Homo sapiens: one gene and its partners. The protein of the gene in region 4 interacts with the protein of the main gene of each other region in a pairwise test. Each region holds a gene or a part of one and is shown on either strand. Other genes may lie near its edges. The genes, in order: BLCAP, PRAM1, EEIG1 and SKAP1.

Evidence for each region.
Region 1: the proteins of SKAP1 (region 4) and BLCAP interact in binary tests that used the Homo sapiens proteins (3 or more experiments, as listed by UniProt).
Region 2: the proteins of SKAP1 (region 4) and PRAM1 interact in binary tests that used the Homo sapiens proteins (3 or more experiments, as listed by UniProt).
Region 3: the proteins of SKAP1 (region 4) and EEIG1 interact in binary tests that used the Homo sapiens proteins (3 or more experiments, as listed by UniProt).

The regions. Positions count from the first base shown.
Region 1 is NC_000020.11:37,517,876-37,524,905, forward strand, and holds part of BLCAP (apoptosis inducing factor BLCAP), read right to left. Parts: intron 6,579-7,030; exon of another isoform or gene 6,502-6,578; intron 5,816-6,501; exon of another isoform or gene 5,022-5,815; coding exon of another isoform or gene 4,792-5,021; intron 4,564-4,791; coding exon of another isoform or gene 4,483-4,563; intron 3,577-4,482; exon of another isoform or gene 3,529-3,576; coding exon of another isoform or gene 3,457-3,528; exon of another isoform or gene 3,375-3,456; intron 2,715-3,374; exon of another isoform or gene 2,563-2,714; intron 2,429-2,562; exon of another isoform or gene 2,361-2,428; intron 1,476-2,360; 5' UTR 1,300-1,475; coding exon 1,036-1,299; 3' UTR 1-1,035. Other genes in the region: NNAT (neuronatin), read left to right, coding at 3,457-3,528, 4,483-4,558, 4,792-5,021. UniProt on the Homo sapiens protein: Acts as a tumor suppressor; induces growth arrest at G(1)/S checkpoint and apoptosis via RB1-dependent and p53/TP53- and NF-kappa-B-independent mechanisms. Modulates expression of genes involved in the regulation of proliferation, cell cycle and apoptosis.
Region 2 is NC_000019.10:8,492,620-8,499,649, forward strand, and holds part of PRAM1 (PML-RARA-regulated adapter molecule 1), read right to left. Parts: coding exon 5,757-7,030; intron 5,671-5,756; coding exon 5,604-5,670; intron 5,222-5,603; coding exon 5,145-5,221; intron 1-5,144. UniProt on the Homo sapiens protein: May be involved in myeloid differentiation. May be involved in integrin signaling in neutrophils. Binds to PtdIns(4)P.
Region 3 is NC_000009.12:127,949,990-127,956,989, forward strand, and holds part of EEIG1 (early estrogen-induced gene 1 protein), read right to left. Parts: intron 3,937-7,000; coding exon 3,816-3,936; intron 3,616-3,815; coding exon 3,586-3,615; intron 701-3,585; exon of another isoform or gene 551-700; coding exon 434-550; intron 1-433. UniProt on the Homo sapiens protein: Key component of TNFSF11/RANKL- and TNF-induced osteoclastogenesis pathways, thereby mediates bone resorption in pathological bone loss conditions.
Region 4 is NC_000017.11:48,133,215-48,140,244, forward strand, and holds the end of SKAP1 (src kinase-associated phosphoprotein 1), read right to left. Parts: intron 4,124-7,030; coding exon 4,022-4,123; 3' UTR 4,015-4,021; intron 603-4,014; 3' UTR 228-602; downstream 1-227. UniProt on the Homo sapiens protein: Positively regulates T-cell receptor signaling by enhancing the MAP kinase pathway. Required for optimal conjugation between T-cells and antigen-presenting cells by promoting the clustering of integrin ITGAL on the surface of T-cells.

The DNA of each region.
Region 1 (7,030 bases), on a different chromosome or scaffold from region 4:
AAACTGTAGCGGCACCTACCATATATAGCTAGCTATTGCTAAACCTCAAAATCAGACCACGTTCGATAAAGCTTCTTTAAAAGGAATATACACATGTATTTGTACACACACACACACAGGGCACACCAAAAAATATCCAAACATCTATCAAGGGGATCAAGGCCGTTACGAAACACACAGGTACTCTCCCACTCACTCAGCTGGGGACTGCTAGAACTACGTGAACACACCATACTTCAATGCTGCAGAGCATGCACGGGAGACACAATGAGGCCCCCTCCTTGGGACAGTTGAGAAAGGCAGGAGGAAGGGCAAAGGAAGTGAGGCTGGGCGGGAAAGCTTGAGCCCAGACACCCAGGTGAAAGAGCAACATCTATCTGTTGCTTCCTTTCTTAAAAATGAAGTGGAGAAAATACTGAAGATTTGTGGACAACTAACAGTCAAGACATGTTTCTGTCTAGCCTGCTGAACAAGGAAAGAAGGATGAAAAAGCGAGGCTCTCGGGCGTCAGCAATCTCTTCAAATTCGAGATAAGTGCAAAAATGAGCCCTGTCTTGGACAGGTACTCCCCAAAAAAGGAAAAGGGTAGAAGAGAAATAAAGGGAAACCAGAAGAGGGACTGAGGAGTCAGTAACATTCTGGGAAGGAAGGAGACCCTGACAAGGAGGGGTCACAGAGGTGACAATGAGACTGGCATTTTATCTGCCCCAGGTCACATTGGGGCAGCTGACCAGGATGGACCCAGACTCCTCACAGTAATGAGGCGAGAGGGGTGGTCATGCGGCCAGCCAGGACCTAGATGGGGACAGAACACACACAACCACAAGACCACCCACGACTATAGGACTTTACAATAAAAGCACCGGTCAGTGCCATTATTCACATTGTAAGGATAAAACATCACAGGCCAAAAAGGCGCCGTCAGGAATGTGACACCCGCGAGGCTGCGGGATTTGAAACTCCAATGCTTTATGACCTATGTCAATGCCTCCCCTCCCGTCTTCTGCTTCCTTGGAAAGCTAACAGGGCAGGCCGTTAGGTGCCCACAACGCCGGGATCATGCGCCGATTCTGGAAGCGGGGAATCGGAGCAGTGGTACAGGAAACAGTTTCCCCAGCAGCTATAGCAGATAAGGAACAGGGCTGCCAGGAAAACCAAGGCACAAATTGTGCAAGGCTTCCGTTCCAGGAGGAAGCTGAGCAGGTAGAAGCCCATGAACATGGAGTGGCTGAACCACAGGGCGGGGTTGAGGGGCTTGGGGATGAGGAGGACGGGCAGCAGCCACTGGAGGCAATACATGATCTCTGCCGGGCAGGGCCTTCACCAAGGCTGCCGGGCACCGCTGCAGGAACCGACCTAATGGGAGCCAGCGGGCGCAGGCGGCTGCCCTCCGCTTTCTTCAACCCTCACTCTCCAGGAGCTGAGCCGCTGTGCTCTCTGGCTGTCAGCCCGGGATCACCAAGGCAGCAGGGATCCTGAAGAGAAAAGTCAACACAACAGACAAACAGACAAAGAACAGACAGACAGACAAAAAAAAAAAAAAAAAAAGAAAAAAAAAAAAAAAACAGGAACAGAATGTATACTTATTTGGGAAAATGGATCATGGTTAACAACAGCAAATGTGAAATGCCCTTTCCTCCCTGCCCACCCGTGAAAGTTCTACTCCTCTCCAAGTCACTAATTCGGGAAGCTTCCTGGGATGTCTCCCCGGGGCTTCTCCTGGGGGATCGGGGAGAGGGCTCTTTGGCACGGTTTCACACAGTGGGCTGGCTTTGCCTGGGCCCTGCCCAGCAGAGATCATGTATCGCCTCCTGGGGCTGCAGCCCGTCCTCAAGGGGCCCAGACCTCACAATACCGCCCAGTGGTTGCCAAAGGACGACCAAGGGCTCCCTGCTGTGCCCCCACGTGGTAAGGACAGGGTTCTGTATCTAGCATCTCTCACAGCCATAGGTGCTCAGGCACTAAGTGCAGAGTTAAAGCTGTTAGCGGGGCACTGCCGGCCACCAGACCACAGGCAAAGGATCCTGAGGCAGCTACAGCCTCGAAATATTTTAAGATGGCAGCCTAGGCTAAGCTTGCCTTTTTCAAACAGCCCAGCGTCACTTTGCCAGAATCTGCCAACTTCTCCGAAAGTCAATGTAGAAAAAAAGTCACTATGCTACTTTGTCCAAACTGAACTCGTTTGGATCATTACACCTCCATCTGCTGCTGGCACTGTATAGAACCTGACCTCTGGGAGCTTTTAATGAAAATTAATTTTCTATCCACATAGGGGCAAATGCCAGTTGGTCCCTGGGCCAGGCAGCTTGCTGGAAAGAGGTGCTTTCGGCTGGCTACCGGTGCGCGGGGACCACACTCACAAACCGCATTCCGGTCTTCCCGCCCGAAAATCCGCGCTGTGCGAGGGACCCACAAGACTGGCGGTCTAAAAGGGACCCGCCTCACTTGGAAACGGGGCTGCGGTAGCCACAACCCTCCGGTAGCGGTAGCGTAACCCCGTTCGGTGATCCAGCCGCACAGCGCAACGGGTACAAAGAACCCCACTGGCTAAGGCCGACCTACCAGGGCTTGGGGGAGGGGAGCGGAAGACTGAGGTCGAAACGACCTGTCCAGCAGAAAACTATCCCCAAGCATATTCCAACCACTTCTCCGTAGAGCTCATTCCTTCCGTGCATACGAAGGGCGCCAATCCTTCCTGTATCCCTCCTACAGATACCGGGTGACTACTGCTTTTGCGCCCAAAGCGCAGTGCTCTGGCTCAGCTCCCTACAGTAGCGACCTCCACCGCAGATTCTCATCTCCTCGCTACCGTAAGAGAGATGTAAAGAATCAGACGGGTTACGCGCTCAGGCACCCTCATGAAGCAGAGGACCTGGGCTTAAAACTCATTCAGTATCAGGAAAAGAGCGCCGAGCACGGGCCTATTATGCCAAAGCTTCTGAAAGGGGCACCACGTTTTTTGCTCTATGGGGCAGATGACCCCTCCCTAATTTCGGTTTTCCATCCATCCCCAAGGTAGGCTTTGGAGTGGCACCGGAGACTGAGCTCAAATTTGCAGGCCAGGGACTGGGGAGAAGGGCGCCACACTAAGAGACCTGCACCCCCATTCTCGCCCTGTACTCTACCCAGAGTCGTGGTACCCCTCCATTTTAAAGCAAAATCCAAAAGCAAGCACGGCGGAATCTTCTGGAAGGGGGCTAAGATGGAACTCAGGAGGCGGGGGTCGGTATGGAAAGAGCAGATGGATTATTTTTTTCCTCTCCTGGCGAATGAGGAGCGCCCCCAGCCACCCCTCCTCATAAACACCCCCCAAGGCGCGCATGCGCACTTAGGTGGCGGGCGGGTACTTAAGGCGCGGCCACCGCGGCTGCGGCAGTGCGCCCAACAGCGGACTCCGAGACCAGCGGATCTCGGCAAACCCTCTTTCTCGACCACCCACCTACCATTCTTGGAACCATGGCGGCAGTGGCGGCGGCCTCGGCTGAACTGCTCATCATCGGCTGGTACATCTTCCGCGTGCTGCTGCAGGTAAGTCTGACGGGGTTTCGGGTGGGAGAGGGTTCCCAACTCGCGCCCCTAGAACCCGCAAGACTGCGTCGCGATTGCCGCTTCCCGGACCCGTCCTATTCCGATTGCCGCGATCCTTGCCTGCCCAAGTGCCGCTGCCGGCACCGCGCGCCCCCTGCCCATTCCCTGCGCCGTCCTCCTCGCGCTGACCCTCCCTAGTGCGCCCGCGCCTGCCAGGGAACAAAGACTCGGGGCGCGGCGGGCGACCGCTGCGGACGATCACCCAGGCATTTAGCGACCTACGCGGTAAGAAAAACCCGCTACACCCGGACTCGACCCCAGGAGGGAGGCGGGGCACTACTGTGTTGAAAGACTTTACAGCTCGCAGAGTGAAAATTTTCCACCTTAAAAAATTGCGCATTGCGGAGAAATTTTATTTAAAAAAACATATAGCGCTTGCGGGGGTGGAACAAAAAATAAGTTAGAAAAAGGCACTTCTCAGAAAAAATAAAAATTACTTCGCAAAAAAAAAAAACCCTACAACGAATTAGAGAAAAAGTAGTTCACAGGAAAACAGAAAAACGCGCATTGCAGGAAAAATAAATCGGAGAAAAGCACTTGGCAGAAAAAAATGCATTAGATTAAAAACGCACTGCAGAAAAAAATTAGACAAGGGAGCTAACGGAAAAAAATGGATCGGGCAAAAACGCTTTAAAGAAAAAAATTAGAGGAAAAAGCCCCTCGAGAGAAAAATAGAAGGGGAAAAAAAGCACTTCCAAAAAAGGACAATTGCTTTACAAAAAAAAAAATAATAATAAAAAAAATAAAAAAGAGGCAAAAGCGCTTGGTGTAAAAAGAGATAAATCAGAAGAAAGCGCTTTGCCCATAAAATCATTTACCCTAAAAGCTCCCTTTGCAGGAAGAATTCCCTGCTAAAGGAATCCTTTGCCAAAGGAATCGCATATTTCCTTCAAGGTGTTCCTGGAATGCTGCATTTACTGGGTAGGATTCGCTTTTCGAAATCCTCCAGGGACACAGCCCATTGCGAGAAGTGAGGTATACCTAAGTTGTGGGTCCAATCAGCTTGCCGCCATGCAGCTCTCAGCACAGTTGGAAAAGCTCCAGCTGCCCTGACTCGTGGACAAGCTGCGCCCGCGCCCGCCTCTCCAGCCTACGCTGGATGGGCGGGCGGGGCAGGGGGTGGGGCGGGGGTGGGCACGGCAGCACCACAGACATGCTGTGGGTGCTCTCCACTAAGGGTGGGTCCTGGGTTTCTCGTCGCAGGTGTTCAGGTACTCCCTGCAGAAGCTGGCATACACGGTGTCGCGGACCGGGCGGCAGGTGTTGGGGGAGCGCAGGCAGCGAGCCCCCAACTGAGGCCCCAGCTCCCAGCCCTGGGCGGCCGTATCATCAGGTGCTCCTGTGCATCTCGGCCAGCACGGGAGCCAGTGCCGCGCAGGAATGTGGGGTCCCCTGTGTTCCCTCGCCAGAGGAGCACTTGGCAAGGTCAGTGAGGGGCCAGTAGACCCCCGGAGAAGCAGTACCGACAATGACGAAGATACCAGATCCCTTCCCAACCCCTTTGCACCGGTCCCACTAAGGGGCAGGGTCGAGAGAGGAGGGGGGATAGGGGGAGCAGACCCCTGAGATCTGGGCATAGGCACCGCATTCTGATCTGGACAAAGTCGGGACAGCACCATCCCAGCCCCGAAGCCAGGGCCATGCCAGCAGGCCCCACCATGGAAATCAAAACACCGCACCAGCCAGCAGAATGGACATTCTGACATCGCCAGCCGACGCCCTGAATCTTGGTGCAGCACCAACCGCGTGCCTGTGTGGCGGGACTGGAGGGCACAGTTGAGGAAGGAGGGTGGTTAAGAAATACAGTGGGGCCCTCTCGCTGTCCCTTGCCCAGGGCACTTGCATTCCAGCCTCGCTGCATTTGCTCTCTCGATTCCCCTTTCCTCCTCACTGCCTCCCAAGCCCACCCTACTCCAAAATAATGTGTCACTTGATTTGGAACTATTCAAGCAGTAAAAGTAAATGAATCCCACCTTTACTAAAACACTTTCTCTGAACCCCCCTTGCCCCTCACTGATCTTGCTTTTCCCTGGTCTCATGCAGTTGTGGTCAATATTGTGGTAATCGCTAATTGTACTGATTGTTTAAGTGTGCATTAGTTGTGTCTCCCCAGCTAGATTGTAAGCTCCTGGAGGACAGGGACCACCTCTACAAAAAATAAAAAAAGTACCTCCCCTGTCTCGCACAGTGTCCCAGGACCCTGCGGTGCAGTAGAGGCGCACCAAAACTTTGTCTCTTGTGATTTCTTTAGCGGCATCAACATACACTTCTAAGACTCAGCTGATGTGCCCACTGTGGAACAGGCACACTGCTTGGGGGAGGGAGGAAAAGGAGGGCCATCAAAATTGCAATAAGCTGGGCCCCTCACACACCCAACCCCATCTCAATGCTGTCCTGTGATAAAGGACCATCTCCCCCTCTCCCCAAAGAGAAAGGCTGACATCTTCACTTGTGGTCCTGGAATAAGGGACCACTTCCCCCTCCCCAAAGGGATAGGTGCTTTACTTGTGGTCTTAGGATAAGGGGCCAAAGCAAGTATCACTTTGGGAAAGATGAGAGGAGGGGAAAAAGGTGGGAGTAGCCCTCCAAAGAGGTACTAGGGACCAAGGGGGTGATTTCAGAACACAAAGCCTTACTTCAGGTCTCCATCCAGGAGCCCCAAAGAAATGAGTAGTGGGCAGGGTGGACAGTGGCTTAGACAATGAGTATGGGATAAGAGGTGCAGCGTGGCGCCTTCTTCACCCAGCTTAATGCTGCAGGCCCCACATCCACCAGGACCACTACAAAGACAATCTGCCTGGCCTTGCTACTCTGCAGGGTCTCCTGGCCCCACCTCACCCCAGAAACCTCTCTCCCCAATACTGGGTTTCTGCTTTTCCCAGCACCAGCCTCCGTATTCTTAGGAATGCTTACCAGGTCCGTGGCCCTGGGCTCTCCCCTGCCATCACGTCAGGGTGGGCAGTGCTCGGCCTCGGACTTGTCTTCCTCTCCCACTCCCCAGTGAGTCAGGGCTCTTTCTACACGGGGTCAGCTGACTGTCTCACCAAATGGCCCTGCCGCCTGTTCAGCCTTGTCTCTGGCTTTATGTGTCCCTGTCACTACACACCTGTTGCTGGGTCAACACCAAGGGAGGGAGTTGGAGGGCCATAAATCTCTCTTCCTGCCACTTCTTCGAATCCCTTAGTCACAGCTGTCACAAATACTTCTGAAGCACAAAGTACCTTGCCCCCTTAAGCCTGATCATGTTTCCCTCCCCTAAGCAAGCCCTTAAGTTTCTTAGCCCAATCACCAGCACCTCTAAAGGCATCTAAAACTTCATTCGGTATCAGAGAATTATAGGGGTGGGGAGGTGCAGATCCCGGTTCTGGTCTTGACTTTGCCATCAATCAGCCTAGGGAACCTGGACATGTCACCTTGTACCCTTCATCTCCAGTTTCCCTCT
Region 2 (7,030 bases), on a different chromosome or scaffold from region 4:
GAGGCTGGCCCATGGGTACAAAGTTACAGTTAGGAAGAAGAAATTGGGTGTTCCATTGCACAGGAGGGCAATGATAGTTGACAGTAAAATATCATGGCCAGGCATGGTGGCTCATGCCTGTCATCCCAGCACTTTGGGAGGCCAAGTCGGGCAGATCACTTGAGGTCAGGAGTTTGACAGCAGCCTGGCCAACATGGTGAAACCCTGTCTCTACTAAAAATACAAAAATTAGACGGGTGTGGTGGTGGGCGCCCATAATGCCAGCTACTCAGGAGGCTGAGGCAGGAGAATCGCCGGAACCTGGGAGCTGGAGGTTGCAGTGAGTCAAGATGGCGCCGCTGCACTCCAGCCTGGGCGACAGACCAGGACCCTGTCTCAAAATAGTAAATAAAAATAATTTTTAAAAGATGCTGCTAGGGTAAGCGTCCTGGACTGGTGACTGATGATGAGACTCTGGACTGAGGGGTCTCCCATGGTGCCAGTCTCCCTGTGCCACTTCCTGGCAAATGACCAGGCTCCCAAGTCAGAGCCCTGCTGGCCAAGGAATTGGCTTCAGGTGGGAGCCCCAGGAACCCTGGTGAGTGAAAGATCCAGAACCCAGAGCCCCAGCATGTCCTTTCCGAATGGCTCAAAGTATCCCGCCGGACATTTCAGGCCTGTAGTCCCTCCAAGCAGCCCAAGGAGCAGCACCTGAATCGTGCCCGCCAGATACCAGGCATGGCCATCCACAGTCTCACCTGGAACACACAGCCCCTCCAGCTGCTCCTGCCTCTCAGAGGCTTCCCTGGCCGTGAGCAGTCACTCCACCAGGAGCGAACCTGACCTTGGCACTCCAGGGTCCCTGCAAACCCGCCACATTAGAGCACCTCTTGGCACCGCCATGCAGGCAGCCCTGGTTCATCCACAGCTGACCCAGAGCAGGCCTCTGCCCGCCTTCCCCGCATGGCCAGCTCAGATCCCTGGGAAAGGCTGGGCTCTCCCCACCTGCAGAGGAGCCCCCTGCCTTCCAGGAACCTCTGCAGTGGAGCTGCCACTGCTCCAAGTAAGGCAGACAGTGGGAAAGGGGAGTCCAGAGTCCTGGCCCCAAGAGACCTAAGCTGCCTTTGAGAAGCTGCACCCACAGTGAGAAGCCCACGCCACTCCTGAGAAGCGGGAGATCCAGGGAAGTGGGACCTTTTTTTTTTTCTTTTTTTCTTGAGACAGGGTCTCGTTCTGTTGCCCAGGCTGGAGTGCAGAGGTGCAATCTCGGCTCATTGCAGCCTCCATCTCCTGGATTCAAGCGATCCTCCCACCTCAGCCTCCCCAGAAGCTGGGACTACAGGTGTGCAACACCATGTCCAACTAATTTTTGTATTTTTAGTAGAGACGGGGTTTCACCATGTTGGCCAGGCTGGTCTCGAACTCCCAACCTCAACTGATCCGCCTGCCTCCACCTCCCAAAGAACTGGGATTTTAGGCATGAGCCACCGCGCCCGGCCCCTTTTTTCTTTTTTCCTATCAGAACCTCAAATGACTGGCAAGGAAGGGGGAGAAGGTTATTTGGTGACAGGAACAATGGGCCAAGGGTGGGGACTGTATGAAGTTTGAGGAGAGGCAGATGCTCCTAGCCTCGGAAGAGGTGGGGGATTCCAGCAGGGCTTCTGGGAGTGGTTGGAGGCAGGCTGTCACTAGCCCAGGCGCTCAGCAGCCCCACTCCTGGCCATCCGCATCCCCAACGGTGGCCCCCAGACCCAAGCCACAGAGCCTCCCCTAGAGCGGAAGCAGAAGGGGCCCCACCAGGAAGCTGTGTGCTCACAGGGAGGTGTTGCAAGAAGCTCAGGGAGAAAGCCCAGGAGAAGCAGAGGGGGCCTCTCTGCCCCAGGCCCTCTGAGGCTGTCAGCGAGAGCAGGAGCACCTTAGAAGCTCAAGCTCTGGCCCCCGCTGAAAGCCCTGCCACAGATCCAGCTCGTGGACCAGCTGTGCAAGCCAGGGCAAGCCCCATCCCAGAGCCTCAACCTTGCGTACCTATTTTTTTTTCTTTTTTTTTTTTTGAGATGGAGTCTCACTCTGTCACCCAGGCTGGAGTGCAATGGCAGGATCTCAGCTTACTGCAACCCCTGCCTCCCAGGTTCAAGCGATTCTCCTGCCTCAGCCTCCCAAGTAGCTGGGATTACAGGCGCCTGCTACCACACCCAGCTAATTTTTTGTATTTTTAGTAGAGACAGGTTTTCACTATGTTGGCCAGGCTGGTCTTGAACTCTTGACATCAGGCAATCCACCCGCCTTGGCCTCCCAAAGTGCTGGGATTACAGGCGTGAGCCACTGCGCCTGGCCTTTTTTTTTTTTTTCAACTGAGACAGACACAGAGTCTCACTCTGTCACCCAGGCTGGAGTGCAGCGGCGCGATGTCAGCTCACTGCAACCTCCACCTCCCGGGTTCAAGGAATTCTCCCACCTCAGCCTTCCGAATAGCTGGGATGACAGGTGCATGCCACCATGCCCGACTCATTTTTTTTTTTGAGATTGAGTCTCACTCTGTCGCCCAAGCTGGAGTCCAATGGCGTGATCTTGGCTCACTGCAACCCTTCCTTCCCAGGTTCACGCGATTCTCCTGCCTCAGCTTCTCTAGTAGCTGGGACTACAGGCACGCACCACCACACCTGGCGAATTTTTGTATTTTTAGTAGAGATGGGGTTTCTCCATGTTGTTCAGGCTGGTCTCGAACTCCTGACCTCAGGTGATCCACCCGCCTCGGCCTCCCAAAGTGCTGGGATTACAGGCGTGAGCCACCACGCCCGGCCCCAGCTAGTTTTTTTATTTTTAGTAGAGATGGGTTTTTGCCATGCGGGCCAGGCTGGTCTGGAACTCCTGACCTCAAGTGATCCGCCCACCGGACCTCCCAAACTGCTGGGATGACAGGTGTGAGCTGCCACGCCGGGCCAGCCTTGTGCATCTGTAAAATGGGGGTGCATTGCCTTACTGCCCTGTGGGGATTTGGGAGTGGAGGGTACGGATTTAGGGACAGGCAGGCAAGGTGCTTGCCTGGAAGCTGCTTGTGTTTTCATGAAGGCATTAACTTTGGAGTGGAGGGTACGGATTTAAGGACGGATTTAAGGACAGATTTAGGGACATGCAGGGAGTGGAGCGTACAGATTTAGGGACAGGCAGGCAAGGTGCTTCCCTGGAAGCTGCTTGTGTTTTCATGAAGGCATTAACTTTGGAGTGGAGGGTACGGATTTAAGGACAGATTTAGGGACATGCAGGGAGTGGAGGGTACAGATTTAGGGACAGGCAGGCAAGGTGCTTGCCTGGAAGCTGCTTGTGTTTTCATGAAGGCATTAACTGTGGAGCTGGGCAGGAGGTGCGGGCCTGCTCCCTATTCACCCAGCACAAACTTCTAAGAAACCTTTGGCAGCCTCCCTCCCCTGCCACTGCCACACCTGCCTGCAGGCCACACCTCCCCCTGAGTTTCAGGCCCAAGTTCTGCCTGGACATCCCCTCAGCTACCTTGAACACAACAGGTCTAAGTAAATCAGGCTGGGCGTGGTGGCTCACGCCTGAAATCTCAGCACTTTGGTAGGCTGAGGTGGGCGGATCACGAGGTCAGGAGTTCAAGGCCAGCCTGGCCAATGTAGTGAAACCCCAGCTCTACTAAAAATACAAAAATTAACTAGGCATGGTGGTGGGCGCCTGTAATCCCAGCTACTTGGGAGGCTGAGGCAGGAGAATCGCTTGAATCCAAGAGGCAGAGGTTGCAGTGAGCTGAGATGGCACCACTACACTCCAGCCTGGGCGATAACAGAGCGAGACTGTGTCTCCAAAAAAATAAAAAATAAAAATATAAGGCCGGGCGCGGTGGCTCATGACTGTAATCCCAGCACTTGTGGAGGCTAAGGTGGGTGGATCGTTTGAGGTCAGGAGCTTGAGACCAGCCTAGCCAACATGGTGAAACCCCATATCTACTAAAAATACAAAAAGTAGCTGGGCTTGGTGGCACGTGCCTGTAATCCCAGCTACTCCAGAGGGTGGGACAGGAGAATCGCTTGAACACGGAAGGCAGAGGTTGCAGTTAGCCAAGATCACGGCACTGCACTCCAGTCTGGGCAACAGAGCGAGCCTCCATCTCAAACAAAAAAACGAATACATAAATAAATAAGGGTCAGGCGTGGTGGCTCACGCCTGTAATCCCAGCACTTTGGGAGGCCAAGGCAGGTGGATCACGAGGTCAGGAGATCGAGACCACGGTGAAACCCCATCTCTACTAAAAATACAAAAAAATTAGCTGGGCGCGGTGGTGGGTGCCTGTAGTCCCAGCTACTGGGGAGGCTGAGGCAGGAGAATGGCATGAACCCGGGAGGCGGAGCTTGCAGTGAGCTGAGATTGCTCCACTGCACTACAGCCTGGGTGACAGAGCGAGACTCCATCTCAAAAAATAAATAAATAAATGAATGGATGGATGGATGGATGGATGAATGAATGGAACCTAACATCTTGTCGTCAACCCAGGGGCGGCTCTGTCATGCCCTTGGGTGCTAGGCTTGAAACTTCCCTGCTTTATATACCACCAAATCCTGCTTTTTTTTTTTTTTTTTTTGAGACAGGGTGTTTGCTGCCCAGGCTGGAGTACAGTGGTGGAGTCACAGCCTCACTGCAGTCTGCAGTCTCGACCTCCTGGACTCAAGCAATCCTCTTGTCTCAGCATCCCAAATAGCTGGGACTACAGATGCTTGTCACACCTGGCTGATTTTTAAGTTTTTTTGTAGAGATGAGGTCTCGCTCTGTGGCCCAGACTGGTCTGGAATCTTGGGCTTACGGGATCCTCCTGTCTTGGCCTCACAAAGCCCTGGGATTGGCTCAAACGATCCTCCTGCCTCGGGCTCCCAAAGCTCTGGGATTACAGGCATGAGCCACTGCACCCGGCCTGATGCCTGCTTTTGATTACTGAATTCACCCACTGCTCCCACATCTCCTGCTGCCAACCTGGGCCACACCTCTGCCTACAACAGCCTTCTCACTGGTCCTTCGCCTCTGGGCTCCCCTTATGTAGTTCCACCCAGCAGGAGCCAGCAGGTCCTAAAATGTTACTTGCTCTTACACCAGGAGCATGGCAGAAAATGGCCTTGCCCCGAATGTTTTGCAGGGACTCGGGCAGGCCACCAACAAACCTCTGCCCTTGGGGCTGGGGCTGGAGTCATCTCTGGGTTCCACATCGTCATACAGCTCGTAGATCTCATCTGGGACCCTGCGGGGATACCTGAGATGAGGCCTCTTCTTTTTTTTTTTTTTTTTTTTTTTTTGAGACGGAGTTTTTCTCTGTTGCCCAGGCTGGAGTGGTGCAGGGGCATGATCTCGGGCTCACTGCAGCCTCCACCTCCCGGGTTCAAGCGATTCTCCTGCCTCAGCCTCCCAAGTAGCTGGGATTACAGGTGCCCCCCACCACACCGGGCTAATTTTTGTATTTTTAGTAGACGGGGTTTCACCACGTTGGCCAGGCTGTTGTCGAACTCCTGACTTCAGGAGATCCGCCCACTTCAGCCTCCCGAAGTTCTGGGAGCTCCAGGCCGAGATGAGGCCTCTTTGAGCCCCACAATCCGCACCCACCTCCGCTTCCTCCCCACACTCACTGCGGGATGTCTTCAGGCTGTCGGTCCTGGAAGTGGAGCCCAGCGGCCGAGCGGGTCCTCCGTAGATCTGTGGGGTAGAGAGTAGGGCAGGGAAGCCGGCACTGCCTGGGACCTCAGCCCCCGCTCCTGCCGGTGCCGCCCGCCCTCACCCACCTATGGATGCTGCAGAGGGTCTCCGAAAGCTCTGCATATCCACGGGCCCCGGGGGCAGCGGGGGCTTGGCTGGAGGGTGTCCCAGGCTGCTGGCAGGGGGCAGAGGCCTCCGCCGGGGTGGATGGCTGGGTCTGAGGCCTGGCCTGGCCCCTCCACTGTGAACCAGGCCTCCTGACCTCCAGCGGGGTGTCCCAGCCGCTCCAAACCCAGGGCTGAGCGGGTGCCGGGAGCTGAAGCCGGCCACGGCCGCAGGCAGTGAGCTCTCGGAAGCGGAGCTGGGGAGTGGAGGCTTTCGAGGGAGATCACCGAAGAACTCAGGCTGCGGGTGTCTCTTGAGGACAGCGCTGGGCTCAGGCTGTGAGAACTTGCGGGGTGGCCCCCGGCGCTCCGGCTGCAGCAGCTTCCTGGGGAGTGAGTTGAACTCGGGCTCTGAGGAGGTCCTGGGGAGGCCGCCCAGCTCGGGCTGCGGGGGCTTCTTGGAGAGCGCTTTGAATTCGGCCGGCCGCGGCCTCTTGGGAAGCACGCTGACTTCGGGCTCTGAGGAGGTCCTGGTGAGGTCCCCAAGCTCAGGCTGCGGAGGCTTCTTGGGAAAGTCACTCAGCGGAGGCTGGGAGGCCTTTTTGGGAAAGGCGCTGGAGTCGCGCTTCGGCTCGCTGGACTGAGGCTTCCAGAGGGGAGTCTGAGCGGCCTCGCTGAACTCAGGCTGCGGCACGGACTTCTTAGGGAGGCCACCGACCTGAGGCTGCGGAGGCTTTTTGGGGTACACGTTGAACTCAGGCTGCGCAGGCTTCTTGGGAAAGGTACTCAACTCAGGCTGCGGGGACCTCGGGGTAGCCTCACCGGCCTCGGGTTGCCAGAGCTTCCTGGGGAATGCGCCGGATTTGGGTTCGGAGGGGGGTCTGGCGGGGTGACTGAGTTCGTCGGGCTGCAGGGGTTTCCGGGCCGGCGCACCAGGCTCCGGCAGCGAGGCCTTCAAAGGGGCCTCACCGACCTCAGGCTGCAGGGGCTTCCTTGGAAACGGAGTGGCCCCCAGCTGTGGGAACTTCTTGGAGAGGTCACTCAACTCCAGTTTGGACGGCTTCTTGGGGAGGTCAGTGACCTCAGGCGGCGGGGGCTTCTTGGGGAGGTCAGTGACCTCAGGCGGCGGGGGCTTCTTGGGGAGGTCAGTGACCTCAGGCGGCGGGGGCTTCTTGGGGAGGTCAGTGACCTCAGGCGGCGGGGGCTTCAAGGACACTGCACCAAACTCAGGCAGCGGGGCCTTCTTGGGGTGCTCG
Region 3 (7,000 bases), on a different chromosome or scaffold from region 4:
CAACTGGCTGGTGGTCAGGTGCCAGCTCTGTCTGTGACTTCAGGCAAATGACTTAACGTCTGTGCCTTAACTCCCTCCCATTTGAAGCTGGGACTAATCAAAGATACCACAGCTCGTGGGGCTGCTGTCAGGGGACCACAAGAGAAGAGAGGGCATGCAATCAGCATGACGTGAACCCACTGCAGGTGCTTGCCAAACCCTGGAGACTGTCAGGGCCCCCTCTCTGAACTTGATGGGGAAACTGAGGCCAACAGCGGAGCCAGGCCTCCCTCTGATAGTGGTTTCCTGATTCCAGGGCTCGCCCCTTCCCGATGTCTACCTATTCAGGTAAGGCCTGTATTTTTAACAACCCTCCTCCAGAGGATTCTGATGAGCAGCCTGGTTTGTCCCCATCCCGTGGTCAGGGTGGCAGAGGTGGCAGGATCCCTGGTACCTTAAGGATGGAGTTGTCCTGGCGAGTGTTCTTCGTGTCATATCCCTCGAGCAGGCAGCAGCGCACCGTGGAGCCCGAGCCCGCAAACTCGGCCAGGTTCAAGTCAGCGAAGCCCAGCTAGGAGGTGAGAGGAGCGTGTGGGAGGGCTGAGGGAGTGTGGGCTCCTGGCTGGCGGAAGCCCAGAAGGGTAACTTGGCAAAAGTTGGAGAGGGAGACAGATAAAGCCCCTGGGCCAGCCCCACAGCCTCGACTGACTGTTGCATAACTGGGACCCAAGGACAGAGGCCCCGGGTCGGCAGCACCAACATGGCAAAGCCAGGAACTCACATCCCTGAGCTGCACAAAGCACCCTTTGTGCCACGTCCCGGCGTGCACCGGGGCCAGTGCGCCTGACATGAAAGGACATTGTTGTCCGTGACACAGATGCATTGTTCCCTGGGAAACAAGGCCGTGCTGTCGGGAGCTGCCGGGTCAGCAGGCAGGGGAGGAGGGAAGGCCTGTGGGAAGTGGGTGCTGGGGAAAGTGATGGGACACCCCCACAGGGGTTGGGAGGGGAGGGGCACTGCAGGATGAGCAGGAGCCCCAGGGAAGGCGCCCTGGTAGAGGACAGAGTGAGGGGCTGCTGGGCAGAGTTCAGGGTCTGAACAGGCCCTTGGGACCTCTGGACAGAGGATCGAGGGATGGGGAGGGAAGTGGGAGTAAGTGCGAAGAGGGCATGCGCTAAGAAGGCCCTGTGGATGGAGGCCAAGTCTGCTAGACCTGGAGGGGAAAGTGAGATTGAGACGAGGTGGTGCCAGACTTGGGGACTTGGAAGACATCTCCGGTTCCCTCTGCAAAGGGTCTAGGAGGCCCCAGAGCCTCTGCTTACCACCTCCTGCCCAGCTCTGCTCCAGATACAACAGGCTCAGAAGAGATAGATAATGAAATGTTTGAACCAATGTTTGAACCCAACCGAACCAATCAGGGATGAGTGTCAAGTAACTGCTGCCTGCAAGTCTCTACTGCAGTGTTCAGGGCACACACTCCAGAATCAGGGAATTGGATTCAGATCCTAGCCCCGCCATGGACTCAGAGTGATCCCCATTTTATAGATGAGAAAACTAAGTTCACAGAGGCCGGGCGCGGTGGCACGCCTGTAATCCCAGCACTTTGGGAGGCCAAGGCAGGCGGATCACGAGGTCAGGAGATCGAGACCATCCTGGCGAACACGGTGAAACCCCGTCTCTACTAAAAATACAAAAAAAATTAGCCGGGCGAGGTGGCGGGCACCTGTAGTCCCAGCTACTCAGGAGGCTGAGGCAGGAGAATGGCGTGAACCCGGGAGGCGGAGCTTGTAGTGAGCCGAGATCGCGCCACTGCACTCCAGCCTGGGCGACAGCGAGACTCCATCTCAAAAAAAAAAAAAAAAAGAAAAGAAAAGAAAACTAAGTTCAGGGAGGGGAAGAAGCTTGCCCAGGGCCAAACAGCTAACCCAACAGAGACAGGACTGAAACTAGGCCTGATCAGCACCACGTCCAGCCACTTCTCAGGGCCTCAGTTTCCTCCTCTGTATAATGGGAGTAAAGCCTGCAGTGGGAGTTCAATTACAGAACAGAAGGGAAGGGGCCTGGCAGTGCCTGCCATGTGCTGGGTGCCTGGTAAATGTTTGCCAGTGGAGGTGAGATGCTCCCAGGTGTTTGCTGGTAATTCCTTTCCTGGCTGCACAGCTGTCCTCACCCGTGTGAATCAGAGAAATTTCCACTGTGACAGCACCCTCCACAGCCTGGTTCTAGCCATACTGTCCTCTGCTTCTGGAGAGGGACGTCAGCGCCCCGGGCCAGGGCAGAGTGCACTGCCCAGCCGGCTGAGTTCCTGAGCTCTGGTCAGTGGGAAGGGCCACGCCCTGTATAGCGCCTCCCTCGGGTGAGAGGTGAGGCGAAGGCATTTCCCCTCCCGGCTGATGAAGCCCACCCTCCTGCCACTGGGCTAAGCCTCAGGAGCTGAGGAGGGGAGGCCAAGAGTCCACCATGGAGAAGAGGGATGGAAGGCAGAGCAGGCTTATTCAAAGCCAGAGCTGTCTTCTCCCTCTTTGCCCAGTAGAAAAGCTCTTAATACTATGTAGGGCTGAACTGTCTGTGGGTACAGTGAAACCCTGGTAACAATGCACATGTCCAGCAGCAGGGCTGGCTGAGTCAACCATCGCCAGCCATGCCACGGGACACTGCTGCCATTAGAAAGCACATGGAAATTTGTGATAACACAAAAAGATGCCCAGAATGGATTAAGTAAAAAACCAAGCTGCAAATCTGTTTATTTATTTATTTATCTGGAGGCAGAGTCTCGCTCTGTCACCCAGGCTGGAGTGCAGTGGCGCAATCTCGGCTCTCTGTAACCTCCACCCTCCCGGGTGCAAGCAATTCTTGTGCCCCAGCCTCCCGAGTAGCTGGGATTACAGGCATGCACCACCACACCTGGTTAATTTTTTTTGTATCTGTAGTAGAGACGGGGTTTTGTCGTATTGCCAAAGCTGGTCTTGAACTCCTGAGCTCAGGCAATTCGCTTGCCTCAGTCTCCCAAAGTGCCAGGATTATAGGCGTGAGCCACCATGCCCAGCCGTACTCGGGAGGCTGAGGGAGGAGAATTGTTTGAACCTAGGAGGAGAAGGTTGCAGTGAGCGAAGATTGTGCCATTGCACTCCAGCCTGGGCAACAGAGCAAGACTCTGTCTCCAGAGGAAAAAAAAAATCATATTGTTTGCATGCACTTCAGTACACACAGAGGGTGCTCATTTTGCATTTCTTTAAACCACACGCATACATTTTATTTGCTGCTCTCTTTGTATGGTATATTTCCTTTTTTTCTTCTTACAAGGTCTGGAAAGGTCTTAATCTATCCAATAATGGGGTCCCAGAAAGAGGCCTGGAGAGAGGAAAGGGGACAGAAACTGGCCCTTTTGCTCTGTGGACTTCTGTACCATTTATATTGCAACAACCATATGCTGCCTTTATATTGAGTGCAAAGACCATCAATAAAGATATTTCTAAAAAATAACACATCTCAGGTAGGGCTGAGTGCCTCTTGCTTGTGGCAGAAAAGGGGCTGGAGGCTTCCCTTGTGCCTGTCCCATGCCACCCCCCATTCCATCCCACTGCCCCTTCACACAGCCCCTCTTACCTTGGAATAAGCCTTCCCGCCTTTCAGCTCCTGCACAGGGAGGGAGACACAAGCAGCAAGTTGACTGCAGAATCCCAGGGACCTCATGCATCTCCCACAATCCCCCCAGATCTGAGGGGAGGAGGGCAACGGGCAGAGCAACTCACCCCATTTTCAGCTGGGGGTGCGGACTCATGAGGGGAGGGGCCTATAGCCCAGCCCAGCAGCCCCACATGCGCCCTTGGCCTCACCTTGCGCACAGACACACGGAAGACACAGGGGTCCAGCAGGCCGGTGGCCGGGTTAGCACTCATCTTACACACGAAGGTGAACCTCTTTCGCCACCGCACACAGTTCTCCTGTACCTCCTCCCTGTGGGCCAGAGGCGACAGGTGAGCACAGGCACACACATCCGCGCCAGGGGACTCCATGTGGTACCAGGGACATGGCACTCCCCATTGGGACTGAGGCGGTGGGAAGCTCCACTTTCACTCTGTGTCACAAAATAGCTGTGTTTTCACCACAAGAATGTACTCGTGTAGTTGTTGTAAAAACAACAGTGAAAACGTAATAAAAATGAGACAAACACAAGGCAGGGGTGAGGTGAGCTAGGGCAGCTGTCCCTCCCCAGGAAGCCTGGCAACCTGCAGAGCCTCCCTCTGTACCCAGTGCTGCTCCCGCCACCTTGCTCTGAGACCTTGGGCAGTTCCCTGCACTGCCATTACCTCCTCCAAAGCCAGGCTCTGCCAACCGCCTCATGACCCTCACAATAGTCTTAGGCTGGACTACTCAGCCCATTTCAAAGATGAAGAGACCGAGGCTAGGCAAGCTGCCCCACACCTCCCAGCCAGTAGATAGCTGAGCTGGGCCTGAAGCCTGGTTCCTCCTGACTCCAGAGCTGCCTTCTTCATCACTAATAACAACAATGACAATAGTAACAACAGCTGATACCCACACAGTGATTCCCATGTGCCAGGCACTGTTCAAAGAACTTCACAAGAGCCAGCAGGCCCTGGAGCCTGCTCCAAGTGCCAGAGAAAGGTGGTCATGCCAAACCTTTCCAACCTCTGTATGGAGCAGCCACATCATCAGCTCAATCCCCAGTCAAAGAAACTGGGGGCCCGGAGGCTAAGACCCTCACCTGAGGCCCACCACAGGTAAGAGCAGAATGGGGATTAACCCAAGCAGTTGGACTCTGGGTGCGGAGACAGCGACCTGGGGGCTTCAGCTTCACCAACACTAAGCAGAGGGCTCTGGTCTTCTAGCCCCCCGGTTCCTCCTGAGTTGGAGAGCATGACCATGCTGAAAAATTCAGCACCCCTCTACTGGAGAGATGCTTTGTGCCCTGGGAGTGAGTGGGAGCCAGTGGCAGCAGCTCATCCAAGCCCCTCCCAACTGCTGCGGGGGCCTTGGCAGGATCTGGGGGTGGCAGCGGCACGTGGCAGAACCGAGCTCTGCATCCCCGAGCAGCTCCCCATCTCCATACAGCCTGCCTGGCAGAGCCCGTGCTCAGGAAGGGGTGGCCAGGGAAGGGAGGAGACAGTGTGAGAGACGTTATCTCCAGCTCATCCCACCTAAGCACAACCGCCAAGGGGACAGCTAAGGAAGTGACCCGAGGAGAGTGGGTTAACTGCCAGATCGAGGCCTCAGGGCAGAGGGTCGGAGAGGGCCGCAGCCAAGCCTCCCCTGAGCATCGCCAGGTTTGCTTTGCATGGCAGTCTTGCAAGGTGGGCTCTATGCCACCCCTTCTACTGCTGAGGGCACTGAAGCTCCAAAAGAAGGCCACCCTACCCGCCACTCGAGCTCATATCCCCAGTGATTGGCAAAGCAGGATTTAAACCCAGGACTGTATGACTTCAGAGTCAGGGCTCTCAGTCGCCACTTTGGCTCAGGAGCCCGGGAAAGCCTGGCGAGGAGAACCTGTGGTGTTGTGGGGCCTGTAGTACCCTGCTCTGCCCCAAGGCACCGCCCAGGTCTCTGAGTGCCAAGCAGGTGCTGGGATGAGCCACTGCAGACTGTATTTACCCAGTGATGACTCATTGTCACCAGGAGAGGGCGGGGGAACAGATGAATCAGGGAAGGTGACATTCAAGCTCAGGATAGAATGAGCCTGGGGAGTAGCCAGGTGGAGGAGACAGTTCCAAAGAGAGGAAACAGCATGAATGAGGGAGTCCCGTTTCCTTAGCCAATGAAAGCCCCTAAGCCTCACTTTCTATGAGGAGCCCCCTCCAGGCTCCACAAGGCTTTGAGGATGTGACCAAGGCTTACCCTGTGCTCCTGCCAAGGCGGTGACAAGGGTCAAGAGGGCAGGCAGACCTGGGCCACACCCTGCACACTCACTGGGGCACACCGCCCCTGTCGTGGCTGCTGTTGTGGGAGCACTGAGTGAAATGAATCCTGCAAAGTGCCTGGCCCGGTGAAGGCTCTGTGATGTCACCAGAATGCACCTAGCTTGTTAGGAGGGTGAGCTCCAACAACCCTCTGCAACCAAGACTGGGGACAAGCAGAAAGGTCAGGGCTGAAGACGGGAGGAAGGGACAGATCTAATCCCTATAGGCAGGTGCCACAGGAGTGGGGGCCCTAGGCTGGGGGCATCACTTGAGCCTAGTCATGCTGGCTCCACTTATTCATTCATTCATCATCAAACAACTGAGCACCAGTGTGTGCCAGGCCCTGTTCTAGGCACTCGAACCACAGCAGTAACCAGCTTACATTCTGGTGGGAGGAGAAAGAAGAAGACCAAATAAATAAGAAAAATACCTAGTAGTGGAAAGGAAGAACTAAAACTATATTAACAGATGACTTGATCTTTTATACAGAAAACACTTAAGGAATCCACTAAAAAACTATTTTGTTTTATTTATTTATTTTTTTGAGATGGAGTTTCGCTCTCGTTGCCCAGGCTGGAGTGCAAGGGCATAAACTCAGCTCACTGCAACCTCTGCCTCCCGGGTTCAAGCAATTCTCCTGCCTCAGCCTCCTGAGTAGCTGGGATTACAGGTGCCCACCACCAAGCTCGACTAATTTTTCTATTTTTGGTAGAGACGGGGTTTCACTGTGTTGGCCGGGCTGGTCTTGAACTCCTGACCTCAGGTGATCTGCCCCCCTTGGCCTCCCAAAGTGCTGGGATTACAGGCGTGAGCCACCACACCCGGCCATTATTATTATTATTATTATTTGAGACAGAGTCTCACTCTATGGCCCAGGCTGGAGTGCAGTGGCACGATCTCGGCTCACTGCAACCTCCACCTGCTGGGTTCAAGTGATTCTCGTGCCTCAGACTCCTAAGTAGCTGGGATTACAGGCATGTACCACAACACCTGGCTAATTTTTGTGTTTTTAGTAAAGATGAGGTTTTGCCATTTTGGCCAGGCTGGTCTCGAACTCCTGGCCTCAAGTGATCCATCTGCCATGGCATCCCAAAGTGCTGGATTAC
Region 4 (7,030 bases):
GGCAACAGAGCAAGACTCTGTCTCAGAAAAAAAAAAAAAGACAAAAAATAAACAATAGACGTGGATTCCAGAGAAGATTCTGCTCTGAAAGACAATTCCAAGTCTCCTTTTTTCTCTGGGCTTTTGTTTTCTCTCATGCTATCTCCACTTTATTGGGAGGTGGTAAAAATGCCCAGAGCTGACATATTGATATCATCTTACAAAAAGGAGCTCAACATCATCACACATGGCAAGGAACCACATCCCAAGTTTATTTGTGCTTTTCAAACCAGCCAGAACAACCAGTAATGTCCTCCTCCCAAGGTTTCCTTCTCTCTCACCTTCTTTGTGAAAAGCTTGTGGAAAAGGCAGATGTGGTTGTGTGGACACATTTAGAGATGGGGATGAGCTATGACTAGGCTGGTTTAGTAACAGGTTTGATGAACGTGCCTCTTCCCACTTGTCTTACTGGTAGCTTACAGTCACTCTGAGGTGTCAAGAGACTTGGGTCTCTTCAGCAAAGAGAGGAGTCCAAGGCGTTGGTGGGGTGGCAGAAGTAGGGAGTGGGAACTTTTGATGATCAGTTTCCTCATAAAGGCAGGAGAGAGGGAAGAATATATTTCCTAAAGGAGGAAAAATACATAAATTTGCTTTTGTGATTCAAAATATAGATGTATTAAAGGGCACAGAGTATAATGTTTTCCCCCTTACCCTGTCTCACAGTTTCTCTGTCCTTGGAGGCAACCATGTTATCATTTCATGTCTCCCTCCAGAAATATCCCATACAAATATAAACAAATAGGTATATATAGTCTCCAGTCCTTTTTTATACAAATGGGGCAAATTTGGCTCCCATTCTTTGCTGTTTTATTTTTTTTAAACTTACCAACATATTTCAGAATGTATTCCACACAGTTTCCCTTTCTTTTTTACTGTTGCATAATATTCACTTCTATGAATGTACTATAGTTATTTGACTAGTTCTCTGTTAAACATTTAGGTCATTTCCAAGTGTTTGCTATTACAATGAACCGTATGTGCCTGTCATTTTGCATATGTGCAAGTATAGCTGTAGGATAATTTCTATTTTTTTTTCTTTTTTTACCCAAACCAAAAATGGTCAATAGGATAAATTCTTTTTTTTAGATGGAGTCTTGCTCTGTTGCCCAGGCTGGAGTACAGTGGCTTGATCTCAGCTCACTGCAACCTCCGCCTCGTGGATTCAAGCAATTCTCCTGCCTCAGCCTCCTGAGTAGCCGGGTTACAGGCGCCCGCCACCACGCCTGGCTAATTTTTGTATTTTTAGTAGAGATGAGGTTCCACCATGTTGGTCAGGCTGGTCTCGAACTCCTGACCTCGTTATCTGCTCCCCTTGGCCTCCCAAAGTGCTGGGATTACAGGCGTGAGCCACTGCGCCTGGCCAGATAAATTCTTAGAAATAGATTTGTTGGGCCAAAGACAATGAAGAGATAAACAAATAAATGACAGAGTGAAAAGGGTGAATTTGTTTTTTATTTTTATTTATTTTTTTTGAGATGGAGTCTCTGTCACCCAGGCTAGAGTACAATGGCGCGATCTCGGCTCACTGCAACCTCCGCCTCCCAGGTTCAAGTGATTCTCCTGCCTCAGCTTCCCAAGTAGCTGGGATTACAGGTGCCCGCCACCATGCCTGGCTAATTTTTGTATTTTTAGTAGAGATGGGGTTTCACCATGTTGGTGAGGCCGGTCCCGAACTCCTGACCTCAAGTGATCCACCTGCCTTGGCCTTGAAAGTGCTGGGACTACAGGTGTAAGCCACCATGCCCGGCTGGCTGGATTTGTTTAGATTTGACAGAAAAATTCCAACCCTCTATACTTGTGGCCATGAAACAGTCTTCATCAGGAAAATCATAAAGTCAAACCTTGAGTGACAGGCCTGAGCTGGTGTTGTATGGTTGTACAAGGGCATTGGAGAATAAGATCTATCCTTATGTATTTTCCTAAATGAGTTCACTCAGCTGCTGCAGCACACTAGAGTGGGCTCTGGTCTGGACTCCAAGGAATGTTTGTATCACTGTCACACTGATGCCATTCTTTACCCCCAGCAGTGAAGACTGCTCCTATTTCAGGCCAGAAGATGGAGCTAGTGACAACATGCTGGTCTTGGGGGCCCTCCATCAGAATCTTAATTCTAACCAAAACCCACTCTGCACCAAAGTGGCTCCCACTATTACTCCACCCAAACCAGGCACCCACCCCCACTATTTTGAAACACAATGTGGTTCTTGCTAATACAACACAAACCTATTCTTTTTCTTTTTTTGAGACAGGATCTTGCTCTTTCACCCAGGCTGGCGTGCAGTGGTGCAGTCATGGCTCACTGTAATCTCAACCTCCTGGGCTCAAGCATTCCTCCCACCTTAGCCTCCCAAGTAGCTGGGCCTACAGACGTGCACCACCACACGTGGCTAATTTTTTAAAAAAAATTTTGTAGAGACCTTCTGCCCAGGCTGGTCTCAAACTCCTGATCTCAAGTGATCCTCCTGCCTTGGCCTCCTGAAGTGTTGGGATTACAGGTGTGAGCCACTGTGCCTGGCCCTGCAAACCATATTCTCTATTACTTAAAAGTTAATTTGATTATGTTCCATAGTTCCAATATTTCATATGTTCCAATATAAGGAATCCTCATATTGGATTCCTAATCTTGGTCAGTCATATTGCAATATGTGGGGATTTTGGGGAAATGGTGCCCTGGGTTTGAGAGCTGGGGATAAACCTAGATCCATCCCTGTGGCAAAAATTGCTAGTTTTATCCCAATATCCATTCTTCCCTTTGTATTTAATCATGAATCTCCCAATTCTAAGCTGGACACAGGGCTATAAGCTTTCTTTACAGCTTGCTGTGTCCATATATTCCAACTTCTGACCAATGGAATGTGAAAGGAAGTGTGTGCGCAACATCTGTGAAGTACCCTTAAAGGAAGAGGGTATGCTTTTCTCTCTCTTTTTTTTTTTTCTCAAGACAGTCTTGCTCTGTTGCCCAGGCTGGAGTGCAATGGCGTGATCTTGGCTCACTGCAACCTATGCCTCCCGGGTTCAAGCGATTCTCCTGCCTCAGCCTCCTGAGTAGCTAGGATTATAGGTGCACACCACCATGCCTGGCTAATTTTTTGTATTTTTAATAGAGATGGGATTTCACCATGTTGGCCAGGCTGGTCTTGAACTCCTGACCTCATGATCCGCCCGCCTCGGACTCCCAAAGTGCTGGGATTACAGGCGTGAGCCCCTGCGCCCGGCCTGACCTTCTCCTTTTATCTTTCCTGCTGTGCTGTGTAGGTTGCAGACAGGATGGCTGGAGATTGAGCATCTGTCTTGGCCTTGAGGTAACCTTGAGAATGTTGGGCACACAGAGAAGAACAAAAAGAAAAGGTACCTGGGACTGGATACCTTGGACCACTTACCTCTAGATTTTTGCAGAAGAGAAAAATACATTTCTGTGTTAATTTTTTTTTTTTTTTTTGAGACGGAGTCTCACTCTGTTGCCCAGGCTGGAGTCCAGTGGTGTGATCTCGGCTCACTGCAACCTCCGCTTCCCGGGTTCAAGCGATTCTCCCCAGTAGCTGGGATTACAGGCGCCCACCACCACACCTGACTAATTTTTTTTTTTTGTATATTTAGTAGAGATGAGGTTTCACTATGTTGGTAAAGCTGGTCTCGAACTCCTGACCTCAGGTGATCTGCCCACCTCGGCCTCCTAAAGTGCTGGGATTACAGGTGTGAGCCACTGTGCCTGGCTTTCTGTGTTAATTAAGTCATTTTTAGTTTAGATTTTATGTTGCTATTAGTTGAACCTTATCCTAAGTGACACTGTCCCCAAATTTAAGAAAAAAACAATTCCAGAGGCATTTTCTTTCCATCAGTGGTGAATCACTAGCATTAGTATGAGAAATGAAGAAAAGCTACTTCACTGGCAACTCTCATCTTTCAGAGAAACAAAGTAGTGGCCCACAAGTTCCACTCAACTATTAGGCAGTTCATTGGCCATGGTTCTGATACCTGGGTTTCATCTTTCTTCCACTTCAAAGGCAGTGGTGAGATACTCCTTTGGAACAATCCCAACGAGGCTGTTCAGTTCTCCCACCCACCAGCCATACATGTTATACTCCTGAAAAGTGAAAAGAGGATAGCGTCAGTTAGAATTTGTTCATGCTTCTGCTCATTTATTCTAGTGATTGCATGGGAGATTCTGTTTGGTGGTTTCATTGTTGCCATTATCACTGTGAACTGTTAACTTCCCTGATGGGATTATTAAATTTAAAAAAATCATCTAGAGGAAGAGAGCAAGCACTTTCCTTTTGCCATCTTCCTGTCTACATTGTAAAATTAGCACATTTGATGCCCTTGCTGAACCTGAAGAGCATTTTTTTTTAAACCAAGCCGAATGGTATGGCTTCTTAGAGAAAGTTGGGCACACATTAAATTGCCAGAACACTACAGATATTCAAGGGGTCAAGTCATAGTTCAAATCAATAATATTTATCAAGCATCTTCTATGTGCAAAGTGCTGTTTGAGTTCCCATGAGGTATGTAATGATGAATCAGAAGATTGCTTGCTCCTTGGGAGCTTACAGCAGAGTAATGGGCTTTGGAGTCAGACAGACTGAGATCTAATCCTCGCTTGGTCATTTAGTAGTCACATGACCTTAGGTTCTCCTAGCTTTAGCTTCTTTGTGAGAGTAGGGATAATATCTCCCTTCTATCTTGTGGGGATGTAAATTGTATCACTGAAGTAAAAACAACTGAAAGTGTTTGATACATAGTAGATGCTCTAAACATTAGATTCTTTCCCTAGAACAGGTGAGAGGTGACAGGTACATTAATAATGACAGGCTAGTCACAGAGAGGAACAAACAAGAAAGAGGATGAGAGGGTTTTAAAGAGAGTTTAAGGGGTAGTCACAGAGTGAGGATGCAGCTCCTTGAATACAGAAAAGCTTCTCAAAAGCACAGCAGATGTTGAAGAGTATGGGGCTATTTCTTTTTTTTTTTTTGAGACGGAGTCTCGCACTGTCGCCCAGGCTGGAGTGCAGTGGCAAGATCTCAGCTCACTGCAACCTCCGGCTCCCACGTTCAAGCAATTCTCCTGTCTCAACCTCCTGAGTAGCTGGGATTACAGGTGCGTGCCATCACACCCGGCTATTTTTTTTTTTTTTTTTTAGACAGAGTCTGGCTCTGTCTCCCAGGCTGGAGTGCAGTGGCGCAATCTCGGCTCACTGCAACCTCCACCTCCCAGGTTCAAGCGATTCTCCTGCCTCAGCCTCCCGATTAGCTGGGATTACAGGCGCGCACCACCACGCCCGGCTAATTTTTCTATTTTTAGTAGAGATGGGGTTTCACCATGTTGGCCTTGATGGTCTTGAACTTCTGACCCCAGATGATCCACCCGCCTCAGCCTCCCAAAGTGCTGGGATTACAAGCGTGAGCCACTGCGCCTGGCCACAACTGGCTAATTTTTTATATTGTTGGTAGAGATGGGGTTTCATCATGTTGGCCAGGCTGGTCTCAAACTCCTGACCTCAAGTGATCCACCAGCCTCGGCCTTGCTAAGTGCTGGGATTACAGGCGTGAGCCACTGTGCCCACTCTGAGTATGGGGCTATTTCTGATAGCACCAGAAAATGTTTTCTTTCTTTTGAAAGAAGTAAAATTAGAATGAAAAAAAAATTTTTTTTTTTTGAGACAGAGTCTCACTCTGTTGCCCAGGCTGGAATGCAGTGGCACAATCTTGGGTCACTGCAACCTCCACCACCTGGGTTCAAATGATTTTCCTGCCTCAGCCTCCTGAGTAGCTGGGACTACAGGCTTGCGCCCAGCTAATTTTTGTATTTTTAGTAAAGACGGTGTTTCACCCTGTTGGCCAGGGTGGTCTCGAATTCCCGACTTCGTGATCTGCTCACCTCGGCCTCTCAGAGTGCTGGGATTACAGGTGTGAGCCACTGTGCCTGGCCAAAATAAATTTTTTTTTTTTTGAGATGGAGTCTCGCTCTTTTGCCCGGTCTGGAGTGCAGTGGTGAGATCTCAGCTCACTGCAACTTCTGCCTCCTGGGTTCAAGCGATTCTTCTGCTTCAGCCTCCTGAGTAGCTGGGACTACAGGTGTGCACCACCACGCCCAGCTAATTTTTTGTATTTTTAGTAGAGACGGGGTTTCACCATGTTGGCCAGGCTGGTCTTGAGCTCCTGACCTCGTCATCCACCCGCCGCAGCCTCCCAAAGTACTGGGATTACAGGTATGAGCCACCGTGCCTGGCCCCGAATGAAATTTTAAGTATGGGAAATATCACATATTCCAGTTCAATTGGATTTGGGGTACCAAAGAGCTAACTGCTTCTTTGTACACTTGGTTGCTGAGTACTATTAGGAAAAACAAAACAAAAGAAGTAAAACCAGATTGGTGATATGTAAAATTCAGAGTCCCTAGCATTATCTGGTGATCTTTTTATCTCTGGATGCATATAATTATCATAGAATTATGATATCTAATATCTCCCCTCCTCAAACTCATGTTGCTTCTGACAACCTCTTCTCCACCTTCAAAGGGAAAAGAGAAGCCATCAGATTTGTCAGCCACCAGCCACCAAAGCAGGAACTTACCTGTATTGACAACCATCTTTCTTTCCCATTAAAGTCGGGGAAGCACCCCTCCCCTGGTTTAAGACTACCCCTCACAACACGCACTTGCAACCCTCCTCCTTCCTTTCCGAGAGATGAGGTTCTGTGGAGACTGACCATTGCCTGTAAAGTAAATGGCTCCTTCCACCAGCACTGAAAGGTGTTCAAGTTTCTCTCATTTTTTAAAACAACCATTAAATAGCTGCCACTGATGTCTACTTCCCATTTCTTCTAGTCTATGCCACACTTGTTGGGAAAGTTTACTCACTCACTGCTCCAACTTCCTTCCTGTTCACTGTTGAAGCCGCTCTCATCAGGCTTGGTTGCCGTCCTCTACTTAGGCTCTCTCTCCATGGTCTCCTGTAACCTCTGCATTGCTCAAATTCCCTGAGCACTTCTCAGTC